Linked DNA regions of Homo sapiens. The protein of the gene in region 1 interacts with the protein of each later gene in a pairwise test. Each region holds a gene or a part of one and is shown on either strand. Other genes may lie near its edges.

The links.
Region 2: the proteins of DTNB (region 1) and TRIM37 interact in binary tests that used the Homo sapiens proteins (3 or more experiments, as listed by UniProt).
Region 3: the proteins of DTNB (region 1) and TSACC interact in a two-hybrid assay, tested with the Homo sapiens proteins (one large-scale study listed by BioGRID and IntAct).
Region 4: the proteins of DTNB (region 1) and POU6F2 interact in binary tests that used the Homo sapiens proteins (3 or more experiments, as listed by UniProt).
Region 5: the proteins of DTNB (region 1) and ABI1 interact in binary tests that used the Homo sapiens proteins (3 or more experiments, as listed by UniProt).
Region 6: the proteins of DTNB (region 1) and CEP63 interact in binary tests that used the Homo sapiens proteins (3 or more experiments, as listed by UniProt).
Region 7: the proteins of DTNB (region 1) and NDEL1 interact in binary tests that used the Homo sapiens proteins (3 or more experiments, as listed by UniProt).

Annotation. Positions count from the first base shown.
Region 1 is NC_000002.12:25,667,078-25,670,577, forward strand, and holds part of DTNB (dystrobrevin beta), read right to left. Parts: intron 1-3,500.
Region 2 is NC_000017.11:59,030,381-59,033,880, forward strand, and holds part of TRIM37 (E3 ubiquitin-protein ligase TRIM37), read right to left. Parts: intron 1,711-3,500; coding exon 1,516-1,710; intron 1-1,515. UniProt on the Homo sapiens protein: E3 ubiquitin-protein ligase required to prevent centriole reduplication. Probably acts by ubiquitinating positive regulators of centriole reduplication.
Region 3 is NC_000001.11:156,341,526-156,344,510, forward strand, and holds part of TSACC (TSSK6-activating co-chaperone protein), read left to right. Parts: intron 1-2,985.
Region 4 is NC_000007.14:39,208,409-39,211,908, reverse strand, and holds part of POU6F2 (POU domain, class 6, transcription factor 2), read right to left. Parts: intron 1-3,500. UniProt on the Homo sapiens protein: Probable transcription factor likely to be involved in early steps in the differentiation of amacrine and ganglion cells. Recognizes and binds to the DNA sequence 5'-ATGCAAAT-3'. Isoform 1 does not bind DNA.
Region 5 is NC_000010.11:26,766,959-26,770,458, reverse strand, and holds part of ABI1 (abl interactor 1), read left to right. Parts: intron 1-113; coding exon 114-214; intron 215-1,466; coding exon 1,467-1,607; intron 1,608-3,500. UniProt on the Homo sapiens protein: May act in negative regulation of cell growth and transformation by interacting with nonreceptor tyrosine kinases ABL1 and/or ABL2. May play a role in regulation of EGF-induced Erk pathway activation. Involved in cytoskeletal reorganization and EGFR signaling.
Region 6 is NC_000003.12:134,534,557-134,538,056, forward strand, and holds part of CEP63 (centrosomal protein of 63 kDa), read left to right. Parts: intron 1-2,598; coding exon 2,599-2,712; intron 2,713-3,500. UniProt on the Homo sapiens protein: Required for normal spindle assembly.
Region 7 is NC_000017.11:8,449,384-8,452,883, reverse strand, and holds part of NDEL1 (nuclear distribution protein nudE-like 1), read right to left. Parts: intron 2,105-3,500; coding exon 1,931-2,104; intron 1-1,930. UniProt on the Homo sapiens protein: Required for organization of the cellular microtubule array and microtubule anchoring at the centrosome. May regulate microtubule organization at least in part by targeting the microtubule severing protein KATNA1 to the centrosome.

The DNA.
Region 1 (3,500 bases):
GGTCAGCTGAAGCACCTGAAATATCACCACACAGAGGACAGTGGGCACAGAAGAAAACAAAATTAAAAAAAAAAAAAAGAAAAGAAAACAAAATCAAAAGCACTCACTCTGAAAATGGGTCTGTAATTTGGCTGGGTGTGGTGGCTCACGTCTTTAATCCCAACACTTTGGGAGGCTGTGGCAGGCGAATCACTTGAGGTCAGGAGTTTGAGACCAGCCTGGCCAACATGGTGAAACCCTGTCTCTACTAAAAATACAAAAATTAGCCAGGCGTGGTGGCGGGTGCCTATAATCCCAGCTACTCGGGAGGCTGAGGCAGGAGAATCGCTTGAACCTGGGAGGTAGAGGCAGAGGCTGCAGTGAGCTGAGATCATGCCACTGTATTCCACCCTAGGCGACAGAGCCAGACTCCATCTCAAAAAAAAAAGTCTGTACTTCAAAACACATGAAGAGATACACTGCAAGAAAGACAGCCAACAAAACCAATGACTAAATATTATTCCAGGTGAAGTTTAACTTTACAGAACAGTCTGACATACTTATTATATAAGTACATTTAGGGTACTTGGACATAAATTTTAAAAATTATTGGGAATGCAAATGATACAGTCACTTTGAAAGATAGTTTAATAGTTTCCTACAAAGCTTGATATATTCTTACCATTCGACCCAGCAATCACTCTCCTAGGTATTTTCCCAAGTGAGTTACAAATTTAATGTCTACACAAAAACCTGCACACGGATGTTTATAGCAGTTTTATTCAAAAATTGCCAAAAACTAGAAGCAACCAAGATGTCCTTCAGTAGGTGAACGAATAAACAAACTGTGGTGCTTCCATAAAAAGGAATATTATCATTCGGCGCTAAAAAGAAATGAGCTGGCCGGACGCGGTGGCTCACGCATGTAATCCCAGCACTTTGGGAGGCCAAGGCAGGCGGATCATGAGGTCAGGAGATCGAGACCATCCTGGTTAACATGGTGAAACCCCGTCTCTACTAAAAATACAAAAAATTAGCCAGGCATGGTGGCGGACGCCTGTAGTCCCAGCTACTCGGGAGGCTGAGGCAGGAGAATGGTGTGAATCCGGGAGGCAGAGCTCGCAGTGAGCCGAGATCGCGCCACTGCACTCCAGCCTGGGCCACAGAGTGAGACTCAGTCTCAAAAAATAAAAATAAAAAAAAGAAATGAGCTATCAAGTCGCAAAAAAGACTTAGAGGAAACTTAAATGCATACTGCTAAGCAAAAGAAGCCAATCTGAGTAGGCTCCATACTACATGATTCCAAATCTATGACATTTCCAACTCTGGAAAAGGTAAAACTATAGCCATGTAATGACATTTATTCTGTCTGTACTGTTGAGTATTTTACAAGTGAGCCCCTTGCAGGGTTGTAGCATGCAGTCATGCCATGTAAATGATACATGACATTACGCACTTGTCAAAACCCATAGAACTATACAATACAAAGAGTGAACTCTAAATCATGAACTTTAACAACAATGTATCAATATTAGTTTATCAATTATAATAAATGTAGCATACTAATGCAAGATGTTAATAATAGGAGAAACCATATGGGAAAGAGTGGGTATATGGAAACTCCATACTATTCAGCCACATTGGTCAAAATTGTGTTAATCTATTTTTATTCCATTATGTATATTGTTTTAAAAACTGTATTACTGACAATTGCACTTGAGTACATACACAAAAGAAATGGAAACAGAGACTTAAACAGACATACAGATACCAATGTTCATAGCAGCACTCCTTGTAATGGCCAAAACGGGGAAACAACCCAAATGTCCATCAATGAATGAATAAACAAAATGTGGTATATTCATACCATGGAATATTATTCAGCCTTAAAAAGGAAATTTTCACACATGCTACAATATGAATGAACTTTAAGGACATTATACTAAGTGAAATCAGCCAGATACAAAAGGGCAAATATTGTAATGATTCCATTCATATGAGGTACCTAGAGTAGTCGAATTCATAGAGACAGAAAGTAGAATGGTGGTTGCCAGGCGCTGAGGGAAGAATGGGGAGCTGGTGTTTAAGGGGTACAGAGTTTCAGTTGGGGATGATGAAAAAGCTCTGGAGACAGTGGTGATGGCTGTGCAACAATGTGAATGTATTTCATGCTACAGAACTGTACACTTACAATGGTTAAAATTGTTATTTTTATGTTATGTGTATTTTACTATAATAAAAAAAGTTAGAGTGCTGAAAAACTGGTCATCCAAATTGAAAAAAAAATTGTATCTTTTCATTATACCATACATAGAAATAAATTCCATCTGGAAAGCAAAACTTTTTTAAACTTTTGGAAGAAACTCTAAGAATATATCATTAACACCATGAGAGACAGAAAATTTTCTTAAACCAGATACACACCCAAAAAAAGACAAGCCATTTAAGGGAAATTTTTCATAAATATGACATTAAACTTAAATGGTATATACAACCAAATACATTGTTAACAAAGGGAAAGAAAAGCCTAGGGCTGGCAGGATGCATTTGCAACACACAGACCCACTGAAGAATCAGCATCTAAAGGAACCCAACTGTTCCTCAGTGAGTAAAAGGACACGTGCGCTGTGATGTAAGTCCACAACCGGGCCAGGTGCAGGGGCTCATGCCTGTAATCCCAACGCTTTGGGAGGATCACTTGCCAGCCTGAGCAACATGGCGAGACTGCATCTCTACAAAAAATTTTAAATGGTGGCACGCAAGTGTAGTCCCAGCTACTTGGGAGAATCACTTGAGCCCTGGAGTGCCACTGCACTCCAGTCTGGGCGACAGAGGAAGACCCTATCTCAAAAAAAAAAAAAAGCCTACAACTGAATACACTAAGCAGTTGAAAATAAATGGATTAAATCCACAAGCAGCAACATGGTTATAGCCCCATCAGTTATGAAGTAAAACGCATACCTCTGACCCAGCAACTGTAGTTTTTCATTCACTGCAGCAACGGTCCTTAATGAGAATACTAAATAAACTACGATACATACTACATAAGAGATTGTGTAGTAGTTAAGAAGACTCAGGTTGATTCCTGTGTTCCAACATGAAAAAATCTCAAAATCATTCTGTTAGGGGAAAAAACTGCAGAACAATGTGTATGGTATGATGTCATTAATGCAGAGGAGAAAAAACTCTGCTCTTTTTTTATTCTGTATTACCTATATATACATGAAAATACATAGAGAATAGCCTGGAAAGACCACAAAAACTGATAACTTCTGTTTCTGTGAGTAGGTCAAGGGGGCCTTTATTCTGTCTATACTGTTTTGAGTATCAGATGAGTTTGTGTTCCCTATATATACATGAAAATACATAGAGAATAGTCTGGAAAGACCACAAAAACTGATAACTTGTTTCCGTGAGTAGGTCAAGGGGGCCTTTATTCTGTCTGTACTGTTTGAGTATCTGACAAGTGAGTGTGTGTTCTGAGCCACCTGCAGAGTTGCAGCACACAGTCACACAGAGTG
Region 2 (3,500 bases), on another chromosome or scaffold:
ACAGGCGTGAGCCACTGCGCCCAGCCCCAGTTCTTAATTTTTAGCTGTCTACTGGTCCTTTCTAATTTGATGTCACACTGTTATGCCCAACTCAAGATGTTTAAATCCAAAACTTGCTTTTTCTTTCTACTATTTTCCCCGCCCTCATTATTGCCAGCATTTTATCACCTAAATTTGAAATTCAGATCATCTCATTTGTATTGTTTTTACACAGAAAACTAGTTTTACACAGAAATCTTACTATTTAGTTTGCATTTTTCCCAATGATACTGATTATTTTCAAAAACACGATTTTACTTGTCTATAAAATATACCATTGCATGGTTACACTGTAATTTATTCAGCTATAACTGTATTGTTGAATATTTTTAAACATCTGCTTGTTTTCTCTTTGGAATATACTCCTCAAAGTGAAATTACAAGTTTAAAGGATATAGATATTTTTAAACTACTACAAAATTGTCCTTCAAAAAGGTTAAACCAACTTACATATCTACCTACAGAATCAGAACCTGTCTGTTTCACTGGGCCTTTGCAAACAACACTTAACATTTAAGTAAAACTTTATATAAAGCATACTTGGCGCACACATAAAAGGCAACTGTTTCATAACCTGAAGATAGTCTTTTAAGCTGAGGATCCAGACTTTCAGGAAGTATATCTGGCTCTTAGGAAAGAAGAAGCCTAAATAATCTGGGCTCCATGTCCCTACACCAGTAGAAGAGCTCTATTTCTCTGTTATTTACACAGAGGTTCTGCCTTGGACTTTGATTGAAAAATGAGTTATCTTGCCTTAAAACTACATCAAAATCAGAGTTCTAAATCATTGATTTGATGTATATAATACTATTGTTTAAGAAGGTAGAAAAATATTTGGCATATATTTTTGAATATACTGACTATACTTTAGAAAGCATTCCAACAAAAATGGTTTTTAAAATGTAGCTTTTAAAGGCAAATACTTAGTTGTCCAAAATGACTCTATCCCCGAGAGTTTAAAAAAGCCCATATTTGACTATACAAATCTCCATTTTATTATAGTAACACAAATGTAATTTCTATTTAACAAATAACCTTTGCACAGAAAACAGTGCTGCCAACTGGCATACATTTTTAAGCTACTGAACATCAAAGAATGAGTAAGTCACCTTTTTCTACGTTCAATTTAGATATAGTTCCACTTGGAAGTAAGGGAATTCATGAAGCCTGACCAAAAAAAGTCCATTCATAAAGAAGATAACCGTATTTCATATGGATCAAACTGTCAGGCAAAATCTGAGTAGCAAGTCACAAAAAACCTTCTTGCAGGCATTTTTACTTTGTTTTTGCACAAATCACCTTTGAACGGTAATTTAAAAACTAATTTGGTTGACATAAATGTCATTTTTATGGTATACAATGAAAAACACAGAAATACACCATGTTCCACACATAGCTGAAATACTTAAATGAAAATCCAAGAGTTCTTTTAGAGAACCACAGAAAAAAAGGAAATTATCATTGTTATTATTTTACCTGTGGGCTGCAGAAGTGAAGCAGGTGGGCGAGGCTGTAAGCCCCACAAATTTTCTATACTGCTCCGGTCCTTAAGGTCCAACAAATGTATTAAAATTAATGGATCAATGTCTAGTAAACTACTGGTAGCAGCGGAGCATAAATGTGTTCTTCTTGATATTCTACTACTGGAACCCACATAACCATGGCTACTACCTGCAAAAGAGGCGTAGAAAATGATATATATATGCACAAACTTAGCTATACTTAAATGAAAAAATGAACTGGTTAACATTATATGAATACTTGTCTATGGACCTATCTCTTAGGAGTTCAGGTTCATGATAAGAAGCAGAAAGAAGGAACCAGGGCCGGGCGCGGTGGCTCACGCCTGTAATCCCAGCACTTTGGGAGGCCGAGGCGGGTGGATCATGAGGTCAGGAGATCGAGACCATCCTGGCTAACAAGGTGAAACCCCGTCTCTACTAAAAATACAAAAAATTAGCCGGGCGCGGTGGCGGGCGCCTGTAGTCCCAGCTACTCGGGAGGCTGAGGCAGGAGAATGGCGTGAACCCGGGAAGCGGAGCTTGCAGTGAGCCGAGATTGCGCCACTGCAGTCCGCAGTCCGGCCTGGGCGACAGAGCGAGACTCCGTCTCAAAAAAAAAAAAAAAAAAAAAAGAAAGAAGGAACCAGACAGTTGTACATTAGCACAGTGATTGAGTGGTGGCCTCATTAGTACTTAGAATTCAGAAGCAAGCCTCAACCCCATCCTGAGCCCTAGAAAAAAACAGATGACAATGTGTACGATGTGCACAATTGGGGGGATGAGAGGTAAGGGTAAGGAGAAGGAGATTATATCCCATGACCACCTGGTTTTAGATAAAAGAAGACAAATTCCCATAGTATAACAGATTACAAAGAATTAGACACCAAAATAGAAATCTCCCCCAAGTCTCTGGACAGTAAAATGTATAGGTCATGACAGTTTGGTAGACTTTTTCTACTTTGATTAAATAATGGGGTACAATTTGAAGTTTTTGGACTGTCATGTTAATGACTGATGCACATTACAGACATCTGTAGGCAGATATTATGCCTATACCCCTATATTGGACTATGCTCTTTAAGCCAAGAAAAGCATCTGACTTTTCTCTAGCACCTAGTATAATGCATAACAAATACCAGATATGGAAATGTTGCTTAAAACTGACCTTCTTCAATAAAGCTGTTTAAATATATTTTAAAGAGATAGAACATTTTAAAACAATGCTACACGCAGGAAAGTAGATAATATAAAATATTAAAAAGTCAGGTTCCAACTACCCATGAGTATTTCAGAGAGATCCAGCAGGATATAACTTAGGAGGAAAGTTCCATTGTTCAGAAGCTTCAAGCCAATTAATAATTTATGCTTTTCACATCCTCATGTTCTCACTGTCTCCCACTTCTGCCTCCTCTTCTAAGGATTATTATCTCACTGACAGTTTTTCTTCCCAGCCTCTGTATTACTGCAATTCCTATTAAATAACAGAAAACGATTTCCCCTTCACATTGAAAACTGTTCTTTGTTGTGTTTTGAGACACAGTCTCACTGTTGCCCAGGCTGGAGTGCAGCGGCCCGATCTCCACTCACGGCAACCTCCGCCTCCTGGGTTCAAGCGATTCTCCTGCCTCAGCCTCCCGTAGTGGGGACTACAGGCATGCACCACCACACCTGTATTTTCAGTAGATACGGGGTTTCACCGTGTTAGGATGGTCTGGATCTCCTAACCTAGTGATCCGCCCGCCTCAGCCTCCCAAAGTGCTGGGATTACAGGTGTGAGCCACCGCACCCAGCTGAAAACTGTTTTTACCTCTTTTCTTTTACTAAGGAATTCCCAAATTGGGTTGTATGTCAGTCAGCTGAAGGAGTTTTTAAAATTACATCCTAGATACACTGAACAAGAATACTGGGGTGAGAAGCTGGGTGCAGTGGCTCACGCCTGTTATCCCAGCACTTTGGGAG
Region 3 (2,985 bases), on another chromosome or scaffold:
GTCATTGTGAGAAACATATAAGAGAATGTATGTAAAGCACCTTTTATTATCATATCCTCTGTTCTGCCTCCTTTTGCCTCTCTCCACCCTCATCCTCTGTTATACATTGTCAGAAATACAGCTCCTTTAGTATAGAGTGTGTGTAAAGCAGTCTCTTTCTTTAATTAAAAAACAATTTTTAATTTCTCATGCCACCTTGTGTAAAAATGTGTAAAGCATTCTTCAAACCTTATAACCCAGTATAAAATGCATTCTTGGCCGGGCGCAGTGGCTCACGCTTGTAATCCCAGCACTTTGGAAGGCTGAGGCAGGCAGATCACGAGGTCAGGAGATCGAGACCATCCTGACTAACACGGTGAAACCCGTCTCTACTAAAAATACAAAAAATTAGCCGGGCATTGTAGTGGGCACCTGTAGTCCCAGCTACTTGGGAGGCTGAGGCAGGAGAATGGCATGAACCTGGGAGGCGGAGCTTGCAGTGAGCCGAGATGGCACCACTGCACTCCAGCCTGGGCGACAGAGCAAGACTCCGTCTCCAAAAAAAAAAAAAAAAGAAAGAAAAAAAAATGCATTCTCCTATGTCCAGGAAGGACTCAAATTATTTAAAAGTGCATTTGCATGGAAATTAACACATTTTGCATGGAAATTAACACATTATTGAGAAGAATCTTGAGACCTGAGTTTCAACTTCTGTCTCCTTACCACATTCTGCACAAGCCATCAAGTGACTGATGACTCTGGAGCAGGAGGGAAAAGAAGATGGATGACCTACCAGTAGAGCCTGGAAAATCCACAAACCCAGTAACCCAGTGCAAAAGAAAAAAACCAAAACCAAAAAAACATATTTCCCTCACCAAGAGTGACTGACAGAACAGATTTCAGTTTTCATAGGCTCAGTGACCTTCCAGACAGAAAGCATCTCACCCTGGCACCCACATATAAGCACTTCTTCCTCTTACCAGGCCATTCCTTCTGTTGCCCTCTGAGTAAAGAACAAGAATAAGACATTTTCCTTCATACAACCTACTTTTCACACTTCTGCCCCCAGGCTTGTTTTTTATGAAGAGGCCCTTCTTAATCCTTCAGATCCCAGCTGAGATATTATTTCCTCAGGACATGTTTTCCAGCTCTACAGACTAGGTCAGTTGCTTTCATAGCACTTACTGAAGTGTAATAGCATGTGTGCTTGATCACCTAATGCCTGTCTGCACAGCAAGACTGTCAGTTCCAGGAGAGTAGTGACCACTTCTGTTTAGCAAACTGTGGTATCCACAGCGATGACACATAGGCACTTAGCTATCTCTTATGTGTATGATGAAAATGAATTGTTTTACCATCCTTTCTTGATTTCATTATAACAGTGAATTATTGTCTCCCTACTGTCTTGCCTTTTTAATTCTTACCTAGTTCCAGCTGTCTGACTTTCCATCCATTGCCCTTGTCTACTTTGCCACTTCCTTTTCATCTTCTAGACTCCTGAGGAGGAGTTCCTTGAAGGTTCAGTTTTTCTCTCTCTGTTTTTTGCCTTGGAGAGCTAATGTATTTTTGCAGCTCCTTCATCCCCTTTTTGGGGCTGCCTGGCAGTTTGACCTTTCACTTGAGCTCCGGTGCCAGCTCTCTGGCTGTTTTTCTGGGCACTTCTATTTGGATTTCCTACTCTCACCTCAGATTCAATATGTCCAGATGTGATTATGTTAATATGAGAGTTGAGTTTTACTCAAACTTCTTTAAGTAAAAAAGGCAATTCAGGGACTTGTGCAGTTGGGAGAGATGCTGAAATAGCTCACAGAATAATGGGAAGAAGAGCGGCAAAAACCAGGGCCTCGGGGACTAAAACTGGGGATTTGGTGCCTGTTGGTGTCTGTGTATCCATCTGTCTCTCTCCTATGCTTTTCCTTGTCTCTAGTCTCTTGCTTTTCCACTTCTCATGATATGCTAGCCAAATAGCTTTCACTGGGCCCAACCATACATTTTCTCAGAATAGGAGATCAGAAGAAAGTAAATTTCTTAGACACAGAATCCATATATTGATCCCAGGGAATGACTCTGGCCCAACTTACCTCATGCGCCTAATCCCTTGGCTCAGTCACAGTTGCCAAGGGGGATGGGAATACCATGATTGGCCTGTATTGGGTCACAGGCCAATCCTTGTTAGGGAGAGGGGCTTGATTGTGGTCTCACCAGTATAGCCTGGCTTCTCAAGTTTTTTGTTGTTGTTGTTTCATTTTTTTTGAGAAGGAATCTCACCCTTGTTGCCCAGGCTGGAGTGCAGTGTTGTGATCTCGGCTCGCTGCAATCTCTGCCTCCCGGGTTCAAGTGATTATCCTGCCTCAGCCTCCCAAGTAGCTGGGACTACAAGCGTCTGCCACCACGCCCGGCTAGTTTTGTATTTTTAGTAGAGACGGAGTTTTACCAGGTTGGTCAGGCTAGTCTTGAACTCCTGATCTCAGGTAATCTGCCTGCCTTGGCCTCCCAAAGTGCTGGGATTACAAGCATGAGCCACCGTGCCCAGCCGCTTCTCAAGTTTTTAAGGTTCAGTAAATATCCTCTACCTGAAAGGAGGTAGAGTTCTCTCGCTACTCATATTGATCTCTTCTCCCTTTTAAGAAACATTCATTTTTACCTTTAATCACATAGTATAACTAACAGATAAAAGGCTTTTATTTTCACCCCAGACTCAGACTCATTGTTTATGTCCTCATGTTGTTAGATCACTGTTTCACCTGTGTCTGATTTGTCTTCCTAACTAGATACTAAGCATCTAAGAAACCATGTCTTAACACATCTTATGTATACCCTAGGATTTAGTACAGTCGCAAGCATGTAGTGTATATCAGTAAGAACTTGTAAACAAATTAGATTTTGGCTTATCCCACTCCTGCTTGGTTTCTCTTAATCCTATTATGATTTCTTTTTTGTCTTATGTATCTTTCTGATATGTAACATATTCACGGCAGGGCCTGGGCACCTGCTTTCATGGACCAG
Region 4 (3,500 bases), on another chromosome or scaffold:
AACCGGAATCATGGTTCAGCCAAAAGCCATCCAATGCAGTAGAGAAACGTCCTGGAGGGCGCAGGAGAAGACAGGGAGATGGGTCATTAGTCATTCTGGGTGTGGGGATTAGATGCCTGCCTCCTGCAGAGGAGAGGATGATACAGCCTGCAGCCTTGTGGTTTGCTGGATGCTCTAATGCCCAAATTCATTCCAGGTTCCAATGAGGCTGGGTTACAGGGCTGTTCCTAGGATCCTGCAAGATGTCTAACTCCTTACAACTGTGTATCTTCTTACAATAAGAACTCATCACTGATGAGACAGGAATCAATCTCTTTCTTGCTGGGAAGGATCTGAGAGAAAGATAAAATAATTCCCAGGCCACACATACAGGTTTTCTGCTGAGTTATAAGGTCTTTTTATCAGCAAAGCAAAACTTTCATTGGATAAAATCTCAGAGCAAGGACTTCAAGAGGGCTTCCACTATGTAAGAGAACTTCCCTTGGTCTTGAGGATATGAAACTCCTAACAGAAGCAAAAACGTTCCCACACATTATTCCTTTCTGTCATTCTCATCTGGAGGCCTGGGGTGGTGAGTGAGAGCGGGAGCATTAATAAGGACATTCACTGCCTTCATGTGGGTCATCCATTGTCATAAGAGTCTCTGATTCTGGCTGCTGGTGATATTGGGGGATGCCATGGACTGGGTGTTTGTTCCTCCCAACCCACCAAGTTTTTATGTTGAAATCCTAACCCCCAAGGTGATGGTATCAGCAGGTGAGGCCTCTGGGAGTTGATTAGGTCATAAGGGTGGAGCCCTCATGACGAAATTAGTGCCTTTATAAAAGGAACCCTGAGAGTTCTCTCATACCTTCTGTGGTGGGAGGACACAGTAAAAAGACAGACATCTATGAACCAGGAAGTGGGCCTTCACCAGAACCAAATCTGCCTGTGCCTTGATCCTGGACTTCCCAGGCTGCAGCACTGTGAGGAATACAATCTGTTGTTTATAAACCACCCTACCTATGGTTTTTATGTTATAGCAGCCCAAACAGACTAAGGCAGGGAGTTGCCTAATGAACTTTGAATAATCTCCCTAGATCAGCATTTCTTAAACTTTAATGTGCATGGGGATTATCTGGGGATCTTTTAAAAATGCAGATTCTGTTCCGAGAGTCTTGGGTATCTCGGGTAGAGCCTGAGATCCTGTATTTCCAGCAAGCTCCCAGGAGACATTGATGCCGCTGGTCTGGGGACCATGTTTTAAGAGGAGATTGTGATATGACCCCCGCTGTCAGAGTCGAGAAGAGCTGCTCTCAGTGTAACAGCATGTCATGAGTGCTCATTAAAATACATGTGTAAATCATGGCCTCCAAGGCTCTGAGAGCTATTCTGTGTGACTTGATAGGGGATGTAAATGAACACGCTCTCAATCACTTCAGTAAAAAGGAAAATATTTGAAAACTTATCCCTGAATTCCAAACCATTAAGAGACTGATGTCAGCAACTTTTTTTTTTCCTTTCATCCTAGCAAATTTGTGACTTTTGAGCTAGAAGAATAGACAGGCTAGAGGGCTGGGTAGGAAGGCTGGAGATAATTCCAGTTGGCCGAACTGTTTCATGAATAAAAGCTTAACACTTCACAATGAGGAAAAGGGCACTATTCATGACCAAGCATGTTACATGGTAACAGGCTGTGCTTCAGACTAGGTGTGCAGACTAGGTATGAAACCTGCCCCTCACAATGACCCACCAAATATGTTTTATAAAATCACTGGAGAAGTGGGGTGTTTATTATAGACGAGCAGACTTAAGAGTTGTTTTTAAAGACTCTGAAAAGCCTTGGGTTGATAAATACTGTATTTATTGTACAGGAAAGAGATGGGGGAAAGGAAACAGCCTTCTCCCCTCGCTGTTGACTGCATGAATGCATGTAAGGATTCCTTCTAAGGTACTGATAGTCCATTTACAAGACTCTCACCCTTAACTCTCACCTTTGAGAGAGGATGAGATTTGAGGTCATCCTGAAGACTAGCTCAGTCTCAGAACCCCTGCAGATGACCTTTCAGCCTGTCAGACATTCACTCACCATCCCGAGTCCCACTGCTTCTGCAACATAACCTGGAAAGCTCCACAAGCCATTGATTCTGCCTAGGGATTATCAAGGGCTGTGCAATAGGTCGCCTAAAGGTGGGAAAATCAGCTTTGGGATGGCTGCTGGTGGATTGATTACAAGGTGACCACTGGCTTTGCCCTTTAGGTGGTGGACATTTATCTTGGGCACTTTTGAGGCATGAGACTTTCCTGATTACCATCCTTATTGCCCTTGAACTTCTCGTTAGGATGACCACCTCTTTCTGGGTTACCTGAGACTTATACTAATTAGAAAGCTTTTCCTATAACCAGCTGATTTGCAACTGGGAGGTGATTTATTCTAATAACCTCATCACCTTCCCTCCAACGTCAGTCAAATTTCAAAGAGGAAGACAAAGGGGGAAATGTTCACTTGTGCTTGTGTAGCAGACAAGAGCTTGGGCGTCAACTCCAACCCACTTCTGAAGATGATGCTGAGAGGGAAATTGTGTCAGAAGTGCCCAGGGATAAGAAAAGCAAGAACTTTTGTTTCCCCTACTTAATCAGGCTACAAAGCTTGGGATTCCTTTTCTGAAACCAGAGGTGACTCAAAGAACCAAACTCCAAACTATACGCTAATAATGAACTTTGATATTTACAACAAACAAAAACAAAAGGGAAAATCTTGGTGGAAGAAGTCCACGTTGGACCAATCATTAATTTTGAACCCTTAAAAAAACAGGTACTAATATCTTAAGAATATCAAACTATGATCAAGAAATAACAAGCCTACTTTTTTTTTAAACTCTGATTTTTGGCAACCATCTTAACCAAGCAGGATTAATTCATGGCCTAGGAGCTCTTTGAGCTTATGTTTATTTATAATATTCAATATTCCCATAAGCACAAATGTTCCAAACGGAAGGCTGCATTTTGATAATGCCCATTTCTTCATTAAGATTTCATCATCCACCTACATTAAAACGCCTCTCCCTACACTTTGTTGCTTCGGCTTTCACCTTGTGTATTCCTGCTTTATTTGCTTAATCTTGAGATCTGGCTTCCCAGGCACTCTCAAATTTGAAACAAGCAAAGTTTGTGCATTAGCGTATCCTGGGCATGCATGATTTATGAATGGCAGGTTTCTTGGCACAATTTAATGGTACAAGAGAGACTTCGTTTTAAACATCAAAATGGAAGTCAAGAAGTGGCAACAATGGGTGGGGTAACAGAACATAGAGAACGGAAAGAAGTTTGGGTCAAGAGTGAACAGTTCTTACTTGGTCTGTTTCTTAGTCTTGTGGACTGATTCTCCGATAAATTATATGAAGCCCTAACATTTGACCAGCTAAAAAAGTATTTTAAATTGCTATTCTGATAACTTACCCAGACAGGCCCTCATTCTGCAAAAATTTTAATTGTTAATTTTATATATATATGAAGAAAAC
Region 5 (3,500 bases), on another chromosome or scaffold:
TGTCTGGGAATCCTTAATTCACATTCTGATATTTAAAAAAAATAATACATGGTGTTAAAACACCAGGAGAACAATTTGATATAAAAATAAAAGCATTTCTTTCTACATTTTAGCATGGAAATAACCAGCCTGCAAGAACTGGCACACTGTCGAGAACAAATCCTCCTACTCAGAAACCGCCAAGTCCTCCCATGTCAGGCCGGGGAACACTGGGGTAAGAATTCAACTACATTTTGCAAAAGAATTCATATGCTAAAGGAAAAGATGTTTCTGTGACTTAAGTAAGTGTATGGGATCCATGCCACACTACCCTCTCTATGTGACGCTACCTTTTACAAATTCATTTTAATTCCTATTTTCCTGAACAGAATCCCAAATGAATCTGCCAGCTTTGTAATATTCTCTATAATCTGTACTAGGAAAGTTTTTATGTATGTATAAATGGCATGATTTATTTTTTTGTCATCTAATTTTTAAAAAATATAAATCTGACTTGTTTGTTTTAAATGGAATGATTAGAGTATTCCAAATGGTGCCTTTGCATGTGTTTACAGTATCTATATTGTAGAACTTTGACTAGTGGTCTACTTTTGTGTAGTATGGCTTAGTCCACAGCTCTTCTGTTTCGCCTATTGGTGTCTGAGACTTAGGGACTCTTTACTTTAGGAAAGTATGCACTTTACTTGTAACTATGCTTCTGCTGGTAATCTTAGGCCTCTTCACACTAGAGTAGCTCCATGGGAAGGCCAGTTGGGCAAGTAGAAAAGATAACAGTGGCTTCTTCCTTCCTAGTTCTCAGTGTACTAAATATAGCGAATACTTGTCAAAGCATTATATTTCTTTAAGGTTGTTTTTCTTAATACTGGAAATATTATATTGGATTTCTTATTTTTTGGCAGAGGGGTTGTTCAACAATCAGTCTTCTTTTAAGAAGGTCTTAGTTTTCATTTTTATTCATTAAACCCTCTGCCCCTGAAAAAAAAAATGAAGTTATTAAACAGAATAGTCGAAATCATTTATTGAGAAAGTAATGATTAGAATGTATATCTCCATTTATTGCCATATTGAGATGGGAATAAATTGCAGCTTCCTATGTAAATAAATTTAGCTTCCTGTTTAAAGAACAGTGGCTTATGGGTGACTGTACTGAGAAAAATGTACATTTTAAAGTTTGCTATTATTGAGCATTTAAAAAATTATAACCATAATTTTTAGAAATAAGGTTAGGACTTTAAATTACCCTTTCCTATGTTTTTCCTAGGAAAAGGTAACAAATTTTAGTTTTCATGTTAAAGTAACAAAATTCATATATCCCAGTGAAGAATATTTTTTAAAATTACAAACTTTGTCATATATATTTTTAAATCCTGGTATACATGGTCACAAAGGGAGACTCACATATTTTTGGGAAAAATACAATTTTATCTTTTTTATTCATTATTCCTTTCTCCACTATGCTCCTTTAGACGGAATACTCCTTATAAAACCCTGGAACCTGTTAAACCCCCAACAGTTCCTAATGACTATATGACCAGTCCTGCTAGGCTTGGAAGTCAGCATAGTCCAGGCAGGACAGCATCTTTAAATCAGAGACCAAGGACACACAGGTAAGCCTTTAGGTTGAGTATCTCAACATCTCTAAAGTGGGTGTAACTGACTGGCGACAAACTCCTATGGAGGTGCTGAGTAAAGGTGAGGTGCCACTCTAATGCTAATATAAAATGTAAAAGTTGGGGGAATAATATTATATATGTTCCTGTAAGTTTGTGTTATAACTTCTGTTTTGTTTTGTTTTTTTAACTTTTTAAAACATCTATTTGTACTATTAATGGATTGTTTGTATTTCCTCCTTTTGATAGAGGTACAGACTCTATCAGACTCTACGGGTTAAGACTAAAGAATTTTTTTCTTTTTTTTTTTGTGACGGAGTTTTGCTCTCGTTGCCCAGGCTGGAGTGTAGTGGTGCGATCTCGGCTCACTGCAACCTCTGCCTCCCAGGTTCAAGCGATTTTCCTGCCTCAGCCTCCCAAGTAGCTGGGATTACAGGCCTGAGCCACCACGCCTGGCTAATTTTGAGTTGAGACGGGGTTTCTGCATGTTGGTCAGGCTGGTTTCCAACTCCCAACCTCAGGTGATCCTCCTGCCTCGGCCTCCCAAAGTGCTGGGATTACAGGTGTGAGCCACTGTGCCCAGCCCTAAGAATGTTTTAAAATGCTCTTTTAAAAAAATTCAAGGCAAACCACTCAAATACTTTTGGAGAAAAGATTAAATATCATAGGAATTATACAACGTGATTTAAACTTTCAGAGATTGAAGGAAAGAAGATTAAGCTTAAATCTGAGGGAGATTTTTTTAAGAGAATCAGTATACTAGAATATGTTGTTATAATAATAATATTATTATTATCTTTTTGGAGATGGAGTCTAGCTCTGTCACCCAGGCTGGAGTGCAGTGACGCGATCTCGGCTCACTGCAACTTCTACCACCCAGGCTTAAGCAATTCTCCTGCCTCAGCTTCCAGAGTAGCTGGGATTACAGGTGCATGCCACCACGCCTGGCTAATTTTTGTATTTTAGTAGAGATGAGGTTTCACCATGTTGCCCAGGCTGGTCTCTAACTCCTGACCTCAGGTGATCCACCCACCTCGGCCTCCCAAAGTGTTGGGATTACAGGCATGATCCACCGCTCCTGGCCTTGTATTTATTATTTTTAAATGTCCTAAAAGTCAATTACCCGGTGGGTTTTTAAAAATTTAGTTACAGAGCATAACAAGCATTCAGAAAAGTATCCACTTCAGTAAGTATACAGCTTGATGAATGGACACACACTCATATAACCATCACCCAGATCAGAAAATGGAACATTACCAGCAACCCAGAAGCCCCTCATGCTCCTTCCTGGTTATCGCCTCGACCTTCTTCCCCCAAAATATAGCCACTTCAATTTTTGAGTGCTTTATAAAACCAGATAAATTTATTATATAACCAAATTTGTTTTATTCTTCAGTTTTCTCTCTCACTTAATAACGTGGGCAGGGAACCTCTCTTTTGCCTTCACTCTTAGGTTGGTAAATGAGAGATAACTTATCAAAATGATTTATGGGAATTCCACTAAATAGGGTATATCAAGATGCGAGATGCTAGGTAAGCGGTATTTATTACTATTGGTGCTGTTAGTAAACAAATTGTTAAGTTGATATCTGCAGTTACTGTATCAGGTCAAGTTCTTTGAGGAACAAAATTGTTCTCTTTGTTGTTATTGAACTCTTGGATCAAAGTATAGTTTTTCTCTATAGTGGAAGCATAGTTTAATCATATTCAACAAGCAGTTATTAAGTGTTGTTTCATTAGATACTAGGCATTTGTCAATAGGGCATAGTTCTTTTTTCAAGAGCTCATTCTGTTAGAACAGGGATCAGCAAACTTTTTCTATAAAGGGCCAGATTGTCAATATTTTAGGATTCGTGGGCCATATATATGGTTTCTGATGCAATTACTCAG
Region 6 (3,500 bases), on another chromosome or scaffold:
GTCATTACATTTTTTACTTTCCCCTTCATCTCCTGTGCTCCTCTCTTGCTTCCTCATATTTGCTTGGCAGAATCACAGTTCTGCTTAAGTCCACCTTTCTGCCCACTCTCTACCTGTCATGTATCGCTGAACGTGGCTAGAGAAAAACCTAATCATACTGTCTGTTCTCACTTTAAATTCATGGTCACTAACCTCAAATGGGTCCTAATGCTACCTGGAATCATACTGTATTTCCTCTCATCTCCTACTTTCCACAATGAGTATTTCAGACTTCTGCTTTTCTCCTCAAACTCTCAACACCTTTCCCCACATCCTCACCTTTGGGTTATATCTTCCTTTCTGTTTATAGACTTCCAACTCTTGTGTCCACCCACCTATCTGCATCTGTGCCCATGTACCCTGCCTTCCTTCCTGGAGGAACTACGCATGCCCTCCCCCTTTTCTACCCAAGGCATTACCTTAGCAGTTCACCTTCTCTTTTCTGCACCCTTAATTTTTTTTCTCTACTGGATATTTTTTACCAGCATCCAAATTTCCCTCCTCTTAAATATCCTCTCTTGACCCGTCTCTTCCTCCTCTGCCCCATTTTATTTCTTCCATTTTATAACTAAAAAATTACTTCAGTCATCTATACTTGTCTCCAGTTCCTCTTGTCTCATTGTTCTTGTACCCACTCAATAAGGCTTTTGTCCCCTCACACTGCAGAAGCTGTTCACATAGAGGTCACCAGTGACTTCCACATTCCCAAAGCCTGTGGGCTGGTCCTTATCTTCCTCATCCTACCTACAGCTTTGTAGGAGAGCTGGTCTCTCCCAACTCCTTAACCACTTTCTTGACTTGGCTTGAGAAAAACCACATTTCTCTCATTTTTTCCTTGTTCATCACTCCTCAGTCTCCATTATTCCTTAACCACCTAGGGTCATGTCATTGGACCTTTCCTTTCCTTTTTTTTTTTCCTATCTACGCTCACTCCCCTATTGATCCCATTGAATTTCATAGCTTTAACACTGTGTATATGCTGACAATTCCTAAATTTATATATCTAGCCAAGACCTCGCCTCTTCATGACAGAATAACTTTCAACTGCCTGTTTCCTATCTCCACTATGATGTCTAAAATGTGTCAAACTTAACATGTCCAAGCTAAAGGTCCTGTCTTTCTCTTCCTCATCTCCCCAACACTGATTCATGTTTTAGTTGATAACAACTCAATTTGCTCAACCTAAAACCTCGGAGTCATCCTAGACTTCTCTTTTCTCAGCATGATAGCCAGAATGATTCTGCTGTAATGTAAGTCAAATTATATCACTTCCTATACAAAAACCTTCCAGCAGCTTCTCTTAAAAATCTGTTATCCTAATGGCCTACGTGGTCTCATTCCCAGTTATCTCTCTTACCTTGTCTTCTCCTACTTTCCCTTTCATTCACTTTATTCCAGCCACACCAATTTCCTTTCTCACCCTTAAACACACCAGGATGCTCTTATTTCAAGGCTATTCTTTCCACCCAGAATATTGTAACTTCACCCTCATCTCCCTAGGTGTTTACTTAAATGTTTTTCACTCAGTCTGGCCATCCCTTTTAAAAATTACAACCCCAACTGTGAAGACTTCATGCTCTGTTTTCTCCAAAACGTGTATTACCATCTGCTATACCATACAAGAAATGTGTCATCTGTTGCCCCCAGTTGAGTAGGACTAGGGTTTTTGTTTGTTTTGTTAAGTATTGTATCCCTGACTCCTAAAGCAGTACCTGGCATATATAGTAGAATGATTGAATGAATGAATGAATATCAGAAATTTGGTTAACAACACTTATCTTAAGGAGCCTGAGACTTCTGGAGTTGAGGGTCCTGGAAGACAGTGATAGAAAGATTGAGTTTCCTTTCCCTTTGATTTGCCCCATTTTCATAAATATTGAAATCACTTTCTTGATCATGCAATTTGATGTTACTATTGATCCATCATTAATTTTGAACTGTTTGGCTTTGGGTTACAAATATTTGTTAAAATTTGGTACAGATTTTCTTTGTTATTCAAACTTTTGCAGTTCCTCTGTTGAGATAATACAAATTTGGATATCAAAGGATATTGTGTTATCTGAATCTACTTGGTTCCTTAGTTTTAGATACTGGGAAGTAAGATTTGGGTTACCAAGGGACTTATCTGAAAATTTAATCTGTTCAATTCCTGGGTCTGGATATCAAGAATTTGGATAGCGAGGGATATCTGTAATCATACTTTAAAATTTTAGTTATCTTAGCATCAGTTTTCTGAAAATTCACTAGAAAATTATAACAACCCTTAGGTGGCAGCAAATCAGTGAAAAACATCTGAATCCAGTGCTTAACATCTGCGTGTCATACTCCTCACCATCAGGGTGTTAAATTTAGAAAGACAGATATCCAGAGGCACAGTATGTGAGGAAGTTAGTATTACTCTCCAGCTCTGTTAGCTGAGTGAGTAATGGGGCTCCCGCTGTGGAGAAAGGTGCAAGCGTACCCAGGGACATGGGGAGAAATTAAAGTTAAAGGGAGTCTGGGAAGTAGTGACAGTGAGGAGAAGCACTCAGAAATTAAGTACTCTAATTGCCTCCTCAGGAATTCCGTCAGAAATCGCTGGACTGGGAGAAGCAACGCTTGATTTATCAGCAACAGGTATCTTCACTGGAGGCACAAAGGAAGGCTCTGGCTGAACAATCAGAGATAATTCAGGTAGGCCTAAGACTTTTTAAAATAATGAGAAGCAGATAGGTTTTGATCAAGTTTGAACTACCTTAATGCAGTGTCCTAGTACCATTTAGCCTCTTTCAGCTTCTCTCCACGAACCCTGCTCTCTTGTTTAGGAAGCCTCTCCTCAGCATCTAGACTCAGCTCCTTCTTCCCGCCTGCCCTCACACATGCGTGCATTCACTCTCCTGTCCAGGCTCATGTCCTTGTGCCCGCTTGCTGCTTTGCCTCCTTGCTTGTTTCTGACTTGCTCACCCACTCTCTGTCATTGTCTTGCTTACTCAGGCTCACTCTATGCTTGCATCCATGTTCACTCTCCTCATCTTGGTCCCTAGCTTTGTCGCCCTCTCTTCCTCCCCTCTCTTTCTTCCCTACCACAGTCCCATTCCTCCCTCTGTCTCCTTTTCCATGTCTTTCTGTCTCTTGTTGGGTCTCTCAGCTCTACTATAGTCTGTGCCTTGCTCCATCCCTATGGTCACTGGGGTATCTTGGCCGAAGTGTCTCAGCTAGGGAGCTTCAGTTAGTCTGCCTATGCGGACAGATACGGAGAGAGTCACATGGCAATGGTGTGCACACCAACTAAAAGTGGTGTCTTTGTGGTAACAAAAACACTTATTTTAGAACATTGATAGAAACTTTTCTTGTAATGGCTTAAGCAAAACCAAAAAACAGACACCTACTTTAGGAATATGTCTTGTAAGAACATATTCAGCTCATTCCTTTTTCAGTTAGAATCAAGAACATAAAGGAAACTAAAAAAATTTGTGATCATC
Region 7 (3,500 bases), on another chromosome or scaffold:
CCTGTAATCCCAGCTACTTGGGAGGCCAAGGCAGGAGAATCACTTGAACCCAGGAGGCGGAAGTTGCAATGAGCCAAGATCGCACCATTGCACTCTAGCCTGGGCAAAAAAAGCAAAACTCTGTCAAAAAAAAAAAAAAAAAAGAGAAGAAAAAGAAAAGAAAAGAAAGAAAGGAAGAAAGAAAAAGAAAGAAAGAGAAAGAAAGAAAGAAAGAGAAACAAACATTGTAAAAGGTAAAATACAATTAAAGACAGACCACTTCAGAAAGATCAGCTCTAAGATCTTACCGATTTCTCTGACCACCTGCTGCTGCTCACAACTCTGTGCTTTCTTGTAATGAAATTGCAGTGATCTAGTACACAGCAGCTTTTAGGTTAGCCAGTGAAAATTCATGCTATTGGTTCCAGCCTAAAAACATATCTATTAAGCAAATATTACTGCCATAGGGTTGGCACACCTCATGCCGTGCCACAGCAGGCTCCATGTCCTTTTGACTCCCCAAGTCCCTGAATGAAAACTCTAACGGGCTATTAAAAAAAAATGTGCACCACCTGTGGGTGTCACCGCACCTGAGGCTTTTCACTATTCTGATTCGTCTTCAATTAAAGGATTTTCAGATCTGCATAATTCTAATCAGTAACATAAAAGTAAAACTTTGTTAGTCCTCAGGTGTAATTGTGAAATCTTCAAATATACAAGCAGCTCTTCTGAAAAACTGACCGTGAGGGCTCCTGATGACTGCTAATAATCTATTGCCTGCCCTTTGTCCTCAGCAGTAAACCTAGCGCAATTAGTAACACCTTACAACCATACAGCACCTTCACATACCTTATCTGATATCATCTCGTAACAAGGCAAAGACAAGTTGAATTACCTACTCAAGGGTTACTGAGCACTTGAAATGTGGTTAATGTGACAAAGAAACTGAATTTTATATTTTATTTCATTTTAATATAAATTTAAATAGCCACATGGGCTGGTGACTATTGAGTAGCACAGACAGAGAGAGCTCACTGTACTAGTTGCCCACATAGCATTCTAAAAGATAAAACCCTATATTTTAAAAAGGGTGGGATGACAGCTTCAATATAGGGTGGAAAAAAAAAGCAAGGGGGGATGAGAGTAGCAGAAATATGAACTACGAGCTGCAAAATCTAAACAAATCTCAATTGAGAGCTTTAAGATTCCATTTTAAGGTTCTATCTAGTGGCTACTAGGTGGTTTTTCTGCTTATCCGGATTTTAAAAAAACACACTGGTTCATGGCAATGTGAGTATTCTGTATGTGCCAATCATCAATTACTCCGAACAATGCTTTTGAAAATGGCAGCTCCTGAAGCATGTAACAGAATGGGCATGTCCATCCAAGCCGGTCTTACATGAGTCTGAAAGATAACTTAATGATTCTCTGTACATTCTATGTAGAAAGGCCTCAGGTCTCCCATGATATGGAAAGTGGCAAAAGGAAGAAATAAAACTGTGTTTAAATATGATCCCCAAATTTGCATGTGACAAAGAGATGTGCACAAACACACACAAGCACACAATAGAAAAAAAAACTCAAAATGTTAATGGTGGGTGCCTGTAAGTGGTAAGATAACATGATTTTTATTTTCTTTTTCTGTGTTTTTAAAATTTTCTACCTAAACATACGGCTGTAATCACAAAATCTATTGCTATCATCAAAAAATAAACTTTCCTTAAAAACCTTTAACTTTTAAAAATCTCATCTTAAATGTAACCATCATTTCACTGTTTCCTATATATTAGTGGCCTAGGAAAACAATTCCTTCTTCTATTTCACATAGCACTAGACTTCACCAACTTTTAAACTAAAATTACTCTTTAAACCTTAGCAACCGCCTTCAGCAACAAACCCCCGTAAGCTGATCATCTAACACATCGCCTCAAAAAGAAAAGACATTACAAACCTTTCGGTGAAGGAAAAGTGTTCTCCGTTCCTTTGCCAACAGGGGTAGCTGGCAAAGAAAGTGATGCTTGGACGGCGGAGTCCATCTTTTCACAGTCTAGAGTTGGAGAGCTAGGAGCCGACTTTCTAGTTACTTCCTGTTGTCTTTCCCGAACTGCTAGTTCTTGCCTTAAATCTGTAAAATATTGCAAACAAGGGCAGGAATACTCACTAGAGGGAGCAAATATATCAAGCAAAGTGACATCTAAAATGTCATAAAGGTCTTCTTCCTAAATTACTATTTCTCAAAAATGAATTTCCTATTTAAGTATAACTTTCATTTCTAGGGGAATAAAAATGGCAAAACTACTGTCTAAATGATCTTTTAGAATTTAAAAATGCTATAACCTGAGAGAAGTTACTTATGCTTATATGCAAAAAGAAACAGTGCAGAGTCCACAGTACAATTCACACAAAAGTAAATATTCTTCACCAACTTATTTGCTTTTATTTTCAAATGATGTAGTTTTGGGGTTATTGCAAAATCAACTAAGTGCATTTTTGTAATTTTAAATGGGCTGGCATTAACTATTATCACTATGAAATATTTACTTTTAGAAAAGAAGTATTCAGAACGGTTTAAATTTTTCTCATGCTTTCAAATATTGAGCGTTTTTTTTTTTTTTTGAGACGGAGTCTCACTCTGTCGCCCAGGCTAGAGTGCAGTGACGCAATCTCGGCTCACTGCAACCTCCACCTCCTGGGTTCAAGCGATTCTCCTGCCTCAGCCTCCCAAGTAGCTGGGATTACAGGTGCCCGCCACCACACCCAGCTAATTTTTTTTTTTGAATTTTTAGTAGAGATGGGGTTTCACCATGTTGGTCAGGCTGGTCTCGAACTCCTAACCTCAAATGATCCACCCGCCTCAGCCTCCCAAAGTGCTAGAATTACAGGCGTGAGCCGCCACACCCAGCCAATGTCGAGTTTTTAACCCAAAATTAATGTTATCTTTTCCAATTATGCAATTTAACTTACAGAATATTTGCTTGTGTTAAAAAAGGAACAAAGTCATCCCCCTTTTGGGTATGTATCCAAAAGAATTCAAAACAGGATCTCAAAGAGATATTTGGACACCCATGTTCACAGCGGTATCATTCGCAATAGCAAGAGATGGGAGCAACTCGATGTCCATCCACAGATGAACAGATAAAGAAAATGAATACATACAATGGAGTATCATTCAGCCTTAAAAAAGAAGGAAATTTTGTCACATACTACACATGGATAAACCTTGAGGACATTATGCTAAATGCAATAAACCAGTCACAAATACTGTATAATCTCCCTTATATGAGGTATCTAAAGTAGCTGAACTCATAGAAAATAGAACTGTGGTTGCCAGGGGCTGAAGGGAAGGGAAAATGGGTAGTCACTATTCAATAGGTATAGTTTCAGTTTTGCAAGATGAAAAAGTTCTAAAAATTTGTTTACACAACAATTTGACTATACTTAACACTACTGGACTGTACACTTTAAAATGATTAAGAAGCCAGGCACAGTGGCTCACACCCATAATCCCAACATTTTGGGAG